Linked DNA regions of Homo sapiens: all the other regions are linked to region 2. The links come from fine-mapping of genetic effects on gene expression. A gene starts in region 2. Each other region holds a variant in brackets. All regions are shown on one strand. Distances are from middle to middle. Region 1 overlaps ARHGEF4 (Rho guanine nucleotide exchange factor 4). Region 2 holds the start of ARHGEF4 (Rho guanine nucleotide exchange factor 4). Region 3 overlaps ARHGEF4 (Rho guanine nucleotide exchange factor 4).

Region 1 (2,752 bases), 200 kb before region 2:
CACACACTCATTTCTCGACTGCTCTCCTCTCTGGCCCCCGAGGGCTCACCAGAAGAGGAATGGGAGCAGGAGTAGTGGCTCTCCAGGAGGAGGAAGGCTGTGACACTGCGCCCCGACACCCACCACCCAGTGCTCTGCACCTAGGATGCCAGAGCTGTTTTGGGCTTGGATTTCTCTGCAGAACCAGGTAGCTTTTTATGGGCCCAACTTGGGAGAAGCTGGGGCTTGGAACCATACCCGAACGAAGCTGGCTGGAAACCAGCCCTCGCCATCGGCGACCCGGCCCCACCACCACTCTCTGTTGGTGGCATCCATCACTTCGATGACGTCCCCAGCTTTGAAGCCCAGCTCCTGGTCGTCCATGGTGACATGGTCCCAGAGTGCTTCAGCGCAGACCACACTGCCATCGCTGATGAGCTGCCGAGAGAGCCACGGGCAGGCGGGTCAGTGGGGGAGGCTGCCTGGGCCTCCCTGCTCTCTGTCTCCACTCCCTCAGCAGCCCTGGGAAGAGGGGATCCTGACTTCTTTACAGAGGAGCTGACAAGGCTGCCTCTGACAGGAGCAGGGCTTTCCTGGGGCAGGGGCTATGTTCTGGGCATGTCTAGATTATCAAGGCTCAGTGATGGAGCCGGAAGTGAACTGACCACAGAATCTGATCCTGTCACTGGGACTGCCAACTGCTCCCTGTTAGCATTCCCAATCCAGAATTCCTGGGGGCTGCAAGGCTGCAGGAGGGAGGGGCTGGGCACTGCAAGGCTGCAGGAGGGAGGGGCTGAGGGCTGCAAGGCTGCAGGAGGGAGAGGCTGGGCTGCAAGGCTGCAGGAGGGAGAGGCTGGGCGCTGCAAGGCTGCAGGAGGGAGAGGCTGAGGGCTGCAAGGCTGCAGGAGGGAGAGGCTGGGCTGCAAGGCTGCAGGAGGGAGGGCCTGGGGGCTGCAAGGCTGCAGGAGGGAGGGGCTGGGCGCTGCAAGGCTGCAGGAAGGAGAGGCTGAGGGCTGCAAGGCTGCAGGAGGGAGAGGCTGGGCTGCAAGGCTGCAGGAGGGAGGGGCTGGGGGCTGGTGCCCTCCTGTGGGCTTCTTGTGGATGAGCATTGCCTGTAAGGTCAGCCACCAACCACAATGCCCCTTCATCCAGGTAGACAGTGCCCTGCCATTGGAGTGATTGGAGCTTGTTTACTGTGTGTTTTTCAACACTTGCAGAACCAACCTCATGGCACCCCTGCTCCCATCCCAAGCCCCAGAGATGCCAGCACCAGCTGAGCAATGCCCCTTCTTAGAGCTCTAGGTCCCAAGCCCTGTGATCCTAAGTTTGAGTTAGTCCAACCTCTTCTCTTCATTTCCCAAGTTCTAGGAGAAGCAGAAACGTTTTGCAGCTGCTACCTCTGTGACAGGCACTTCAGGACTGCTCTTAT[GC/C]AGTGTTACCCAGTCAACCACATTATACCTAGCCGACCATTCTTCACATGCTTCTCTCTGCTCAAATAACCAGCAGAGTGCCTTGCTCCAGAGTGGTGTGGACTAAGACACTGGACGCTCCCCTGCCTCTCCCAGGCAGCCCTTGTACGCCATGGGGCTGACCCCTGCTTTCTCCTAACATGGGATCTGTTTCTGCTCCCTGAATGATGAGCAGTTCTAGGGCCTTAGGGCAGGAGAGGAGGAGTGGGCTGGGGCTGCACAGGAGGTGAGGTCCACGACCCTCCCTGCTAGGACCAGGTGTTGGCACTGGCTGTCACAGCTGTGGGGGCGGTCAAGGATGGGAATGTCACAAACAGGCCCTCCTCTGAGCTCCCATCCCAGGAGCCCTCCTTTCACTTCACTGGGTACTCCCTAAGCACTGTGTGAATCCTCACCTCAACATGGAAACCAAGAGTGGGGCCAGTCCTGTGTTCCAGCTAAGAGGCCTCTGCCTGAATGGGCAGGGTGAGGGCTGGGGCTGGCCACTGGAGCACTGAAGCTCCAGAGCCTGCTTGGGATGGTGCTTTCCTCCAGGGGTCCTGAGCAAGCAAGTTCAGGGAAGGACAAACCTTCTCTTTCCTGGGGGTAAAACCTGCTCCAGTCCTGATGGACGCTCTCCTCAGAGTGACACATGAGCCTGTGAGCCCAGGAACCCTCACAGCGCGGCAGCCACGCGGGGGCTGCAGACCTCCAGAGGCCTCCACGGGGTCCCAGGCACAGAGCCCTGGGTTATTCCTGGGGGCAGCAGGCTTCCACAGGGGGCCACTGCTCTCATTCCCAGCCACAAAGACCTTCTGCAGGTGGCCTCCAGATCATGAGCTGCTGCTGCCACTCAGATGAGATGAGACAGGAGGGCTCAGGCGACCATATGGTAGGAGCCCACCAGCCACAGTGGGGAGCTGGCTCACCCCGCTGAGGCCCTGAAGAATGAGGCTCCAGGGAAAGAAGGAAGCAGACATGGCGGTCTGGGGACACCAGTGAGAGCGTGAGCTGTAGGTGACATGGCCCTGACCTGGGGTCTGTGACACAGGCTGTCAGGAGGTGACCCGACACACTCAACATGGCTCATTTTCCCACTGCTTCCCTTCTCAGGAGGTTCCTGCCTGATATTAACCAGGTGAGGTGTCACCCTCTGTCTCTAGGTTCCCTTAAATGAGCCCTGAGCAGAAGCCTGGTGCCCCCATTCCCCTTTCCTTTATGCTGCCTGTCCCTGCAGGTGGGACTGGGTCCGGCATAGGTGGCCCCCCACATAGCTGCCAGGGAAGGTCACCAGGTGTCGGGCAAGAGGAGGGCTTCACAGAGAG
Region 2 (2,752 bases):
CAGGCGATCCGCCCCCCCCACTCGGCCTCCCAAAGTGCTGAGATTACAGGCATGAGCCACCGCGCCGGGCCACACTCACATTTTCTAATAAGACCTTCACACTAACCCTGAAAGGTGTGGAGGGCATGGAAACATCACCCACATTTTTCAAAACAAAGACCCAGGTGGTTATGTGATTGTCCCAAGATTGTACACCTCCTCAATGACAGAGTCGGCATTTGAAGGGGGTCTGAGCTCTTCCAAGCCATCTCCTACACTCACCAGCACAGGTTCCTGAAAGGCTGCCTTCCCGGCTGTCCGGCCCTCTCCACTCTTGATGCCAGCGATCACTTCGTTATCGCTGGGGGTGGGAGCTGATGCCAGGCCAGCGGATAGGCTGAGGGCAGGGCTCCTGCAGGTCTGCCCTGGGTCACCTGGCTTCCTGCCCCTTTCACTAGAGCTCTCAGGGCCACAGAACTCCGACCTCAACCTCCCGTCTTCAACTCCGGGAGAAGATGGCTGCACAGCCAAGTAGGGCGCCCTCCCGCCCTCCCGCCCCGACAGCCCCACACAGGTCTGCCTCCCCCTGGACCTGCAGCTGACAGCTGGTGGCTCTTCCCCGCCTCTCCTTTCATGCAGTTGCTCCCGGAGTAGGAGCCCATCGGAGCTCAGCACCACCCAGCGTCGCAACCGCCCTCCCGCTGGCTCACCTGGGGAGGTCGGGCTTGGCAACCTGTGGCCGGCCACCCCTGACAGTGCCCCGGAGCCCCCGGCCCATCTTGGGGTTCCTGTGGGGGCAGCGAGGTGGAGGCGTCCCAACTGAGTGGGTCCCGGATGGTGAGCGGGCCCGGAAATCGGGCCAGAGAGGGGGCACCCCGAGCAGGAGCCCAACAGCCCCGACCCCAGTTCCAGCCCCTTGCCGCTGCTGCGCCCTCGCGTACTCTCAGCCTGGGGAATAACAACAGCAACCACTTCTCCCGTACCCACCGGGCCGGCACCAGCCCTCCTTCCCAAAACAGCTGGTACTGCGCCAAGCGGCAGAGGCTCCGAGTGCCCTGCGCGCCCAGGCCGGTCCAGGCAGCGGCTCCGAGTGCCCCGCGCGCCCAGGACGGTCCAGGTGCGGGGAGGCCGGCTCAGGCGCTCGCCCTTGCCCTCTCAGGGGCTCGCCCCGGGCCGCCGTCCCTACCGCCCCCAACGGAGCCCCGTCCTTCCCCGCGCTCGAGACGGCCCCACTTTGCAGGACGCCGCCTCCGGTCTGCACGTCGGAAAGTTGGGAGCGGCGGGGAGCCACGAGGGTGTCCCCACCCACCGGGTGCCCAGGGGACGGCCCGGGGCGCAGCAGCCAGCGCGGGCTGTGCTCCTCCCCACCCGCGCAGGGCGCCGGGAGCCCGACCGCAAGTCCCGGACGCCGGCTCTCACCTTGAAGAAGCTCCGGAGGAAGTGCACGACGCTGAGCATGGTGGCCGCCGGGACGCCCGGAGCCCGGCCGCAGCACTACGAGCCGCGCCGCCGAGCCGGCTCCACCGACGCCACCCCGCGCCCCGCCCTAGGGTCCGCCCCCGCGCCCTCGCCCGGACGCTCCGCCCCCGCAAACCTGGCCACTGGAGGCACGTGAGGTCCAGGCTCCTGCCCTGCCCGCCCCTGGGCTTTGGTCACCCGCGGGACTGGGCACGCACAGGCACACAGCAGAGCCGTCCACAGACCCGGCCCAGGGGCCGCCGGGATCATCCCGCCCAGTCGAGCTCTTGGGCCCCCTTGAAGCCTAGGAGTGTTTTCTCAGAGAGAAAGCAGCACGCTTCTTGCGCATTTGCACATCTCCAACGCAGCGCTTCGGCCTGTCCTCCGCACTGGAGACTCAGGTGCCTCCGCCCTCCTGAGAGCAGGGGCGGCCTCTCTGCTGAGAGTTCTGATTGTCAAGCTCCCAGAACTTTCAGAGTTCAGTCCGCCCAGCGTTCTTGTTTACCAGTTGAGGAAACGGAGGCCCAGGGAGGCTGTGCAGCGCGCCGGCACTCACACACCTGGTGGGGACAAATGTGGACTAGGATATCTGGGACCGAAGTCTTGGCCTCCAGCTCCCTCTTGCCTCCCACTTACCTTTCCAGGTATGTCCTGCAGATAGGATGTAAGTGAATGGTCACACCCGTAACCATTAAGGAGCGCAGCTTTCTGCTAAGGGGCAAAGGGAAGTCCTCGCTGCTTTCTTTGCAGGGGTTTAAGGAGACAGGGCCTGCCAGGAAACACTCTAACCAGCCCTAGGACCGCACTATTTTAAATCAGAAGAAAAAAACTGAGTATAATAAAATAATAATGAATCTAGCCTGGAGTATATTCATCTTTATATGAATGCAGTTGTAAACTCTAATTTTAACTATTTTATTTTATGCAGGAAGAGGCCCACGAAAGCTAAGACCCCAAGGCCCATGTGCACCATACTGCAGCCCTGCTCTGTCCACCATTTCTGAGATCGGCGCCCCACAGAGGGAGAGCATCTGCCCAGACTGGCTTTTTGCACCCCTGCTCAAGCCTGCACCCTCGTCCAAGTCCTAGCCCCACTGAACGCTATGCCTGGTCAGCAGTGCGTGTCAGGGGTGCCTGGCAGAGTGTGCATTTTCCGTACACCCAACCTGTCTCTGCCTCTCCCCAGGCCCTCACAGCAACCAGGCCAGGCGAGAAGCTTGGGAGATAGATACTCAGAGGAGGCACTGTGGGGCCATCTGAAGATCCTGCGTCCCCTGTCACAGCCTTTATGTCACTCAGGGTCCATGACTGTGCT
Region 3 (2,752 bases), 110 kb before region 2:
CTGGTAAGTTATATATATATACATGAAACGCTAAAGCTACCATTAAAAACAAATCTCAAAAAATACAGTGAAAGAATCATTAATAAAATTAAAATACTACATTAGAAAATATTCACTCAGTGAAAAAGAAAACAGTAAAGAAGGAATAGAACAATAAAAAGATGAGACAGGGAAAACAAGAAGTGAAGACATGCCATGAACTGTGCCCATAGAAGATGGCAAATTTAATCAATAAATGTTGTGTGTTCCAACTGCTCCACCGACCATCCATTCCTCTGTCTCTCTCCCTCTCCTTGGGCTTCCCTATTCATGAGACACAATATGGAAATTAGGCCAATTAATAACCCAGTAATGGCCTTTAAGTTTTCAAGTGAAAGGAAGAGTCACATATCTCTAACTTTAAATCAAAAGCTAGAAATGATTCAGCTTAGTAAGGAAGGCATGTCAAAGCCAAGATGGCCCAGAAGCTAGGCCTCTCAAGCCAAACAGCCAAGTTCTGAAAGTGAAGGAGCAGTTCTTGTAGGAAATGAAAAGTGCTACTCCAGTTAGCACATGAATAAGAAAGTGAAACAGCCTGATTGCAATAGGAAGAAAGTTTTAGTGGTCTAGATAGAAGATCAAATCAGCCACAACACTCCTTTAAGCTAAGGCCTAATCCAGAGCAAGGCCTTAACTTTTTCCAATTGTATGAAGGCTGAGAGAAGTGAGGAAGCTGTAAAAGAAAAGTCTAAACCTAGCAGAGGTTGGTTCCTGAGATTTAAGGACAGAAGCCATCTCCCTAGCACTGAAGTGCAAGGTAGTAGAAGTAATCCAATTGCTCATCAGTGGATGAATAAATAAGCAAACTGTGGTGTATCCATACAATGGAATATTATTTGGCCAAAGAAAGAAATGAAGTACTGAAGTACATGTGACATGTGGAAGAACCTTGAAAACATTATTATAAGTGAGAGAAGCCAGTCACAAAACCAGTTCCTACATGATTCCATCCATAGGCAAATCCAGGGTAGGGAATTTACAGAGACAGGAAGTAGATAAGTGGTTCCTTCGGGTGGTGGTGGGGGG[T/GGT]AATAGCTAAAGGTACAGAGCTTCTTATGAGGTGCTGACAATGTTCTAAAATGGACTGGTGATGACCGCACGTATCTGTGAATATCCTGCCACCGAACTGTATATGACTATAGCTCAACAAAGCTGTTTAAAAAATAGAAAGCATCCTTTACTAGTAACTAGAGACTGATGAAGGGTGTTAGCCACAAGATACAACAAAGTGGTTTGAAGAAAGAGGTGACCTACAGCTTGTGAAATAACCATACTACCAGGTAGTCCTGGTAAAACCCAGCCAACCCTTCCAAAGCCACAGGCACGAACTCTGGAGGCATCAGGGACTCTCAGAGATGTACCTGGCCCTGCCAGCTCCACTGAGAGAGGGGCGGGTGTGGTGGGGGTTTATCTTGGACACCGATTTGCCAGGGAGAGGTGGCCTGCTCCCACATCAGGCTGATTCTTGGCCACCCTTCCAAACGTGGAGAAGAAATTCTAGTGAGGGGGAGGAGCTCCCTGCCAGGACTACTGACAGCTCCCCACAAGCCTCTAGGCGCTGACTCATGGCATTCATCACAAGAAAGCCTTGCCTTCCTCATCCTCCTTCAGCTGTGTTTGAAGGATGTTAACAGGAACCCATAACAATCTCTGAAAGAACGTCACTTCCAGTGCTACTTAACAACACACCACTGCTGGGGGAAGACTGCTGTCCTCACAGACGAGCAAATAAAGAAATTTCACCTATTAATAAAAAGCCTCAAAAGAGGCCATGTGTGGTGGCTCACGCCTGTAATTCCAGCACTTTGGGAAACTGAGGCAAACAGATCACCTGAGGTCAGGAGTTCGAGACCAGCCTGGCCAACATGGCAAAACCCTGTCTCTACTAAAAATACAACAATTAGCTGGGCATGGTGGTGGGGACCTGTAACCCCAGCTACTTGGGGGCTGAGGCAGGAGAATTGCTTGAACCCAGGAAGTGGAGGCTGCAGTGAGCCGAGATCGATCGCACCACTGCACTGCAGCCTGGGCGACAGAGCGAGACCCCATCGAAAAACAAACAGGCCGGGCATGGTGGCTCATGCCTGTAATCCCAGCACTTTGGGAGGCCAAGACAGGCGGATCACGAGGTCAGGAGATCGAGACCACCCTGGCTATCACAGTGAAACCCTGTCTCTACTAAAAAATAGAAAAAATTAGCCAGGCGTGGTGGCGGGCCCCTGTAGTCCCAGCTACTTGGGAGGCTGAGGCAGGAGAATGGCGTGAACCCAGGAGGTGGAGTTTGCAGTGAGCCGAGATCGCACCACTGCACTCCAGCTTGGGTGACAGAGCGAGACTCCGTCTCAAAAAATAAATAAATAAATAAAATAAAGTAAATAAAAAACAAACAAACAAACAGAAAACCTCGAAAGAAGAGCAGATGAATTTGGAAATGAACTGAAATTTGGAAATAACAAGAAAATTTTACAAAAATCCCAATTTTCTGTTCTTAATGGCTTCAAAAGGACATTGGAAAGATTGTTGCAGATTAAAAACATGATCACTGCATCACAAACTGCCAGTGAAGGCAGTGAACACAGGTGAGAAAAAAACAAAACAAAACAGGAAAACAAAGCAGAAGATGAAACAGAAATTCTCCCAGAACTGGGCAGAAAATGGATCAAATTTGAATGAGAATTCAAATGAGAATGATGACAGATTCCAGGGATAGAAACTA

What was found. PIP is the estimated chance that this variant, and not a neighbour inherited with it, causes the effect.
Region 1: its variant is fine-mapped to the expression of ARHGEF4 in lung (TOPMed, PIP 0.92).
Region 3: its variant is fine-mapped to the expression of ARHGEF4 in whole blood (INTERVAL, PIP above 0.99).

Annotation. Positions count from the first base shown.
Region 1 is chr2:131,036,518-131,039,269 of GRCh38, reverse strand. It overlaps ARHGEF4 (Rho guanine nucleotide exchange factor 4), which reads right to left. Exons shown (of 14, transcript NM_001367493.1): 6 at 238-417. Among named protein-coding and RNA genes, the nearest start is that of SMIM39, 2.8 kb to the right of the region's middle. The variant GC/C (reference allele first, on the strand shown) is at 1,409.
Region 2 is chr2:130,835,639-130,838,390 of GRCh38, reverse strand. It overlaps ARHGEF4 (Rho guanine nucleotide exchange factor 4), which reads right to left and starts at 1,477. Exons shown (of 14, transcript NM_001367493.1): 1 at 1,399-1,477. The coding sequence starts at 1,437. ARHGEF4-AS1 (ARHGEF4 antisense RNA 1) reads left to right here and starts at 1,397. Exons shown (of 2, transcript NR_186036.1): 1 at 1,397-2,081.
Region 3 is chr2:130,949,000-130,951,751 of GRCh38, reverse strand. The region is part of intron 4 of ARHGEF4 (Rho guanine nucleotide exchange factor 4); the gene reads right to left. Among named protein-coding and RNA genes, the nearest start is that of SMIM39, 85 kb to the left of the region's middle. RefSeq lists a silencer at 2,044-2,371. The variant T/GGT (reference allele first, on the strand shown) is at 1,066.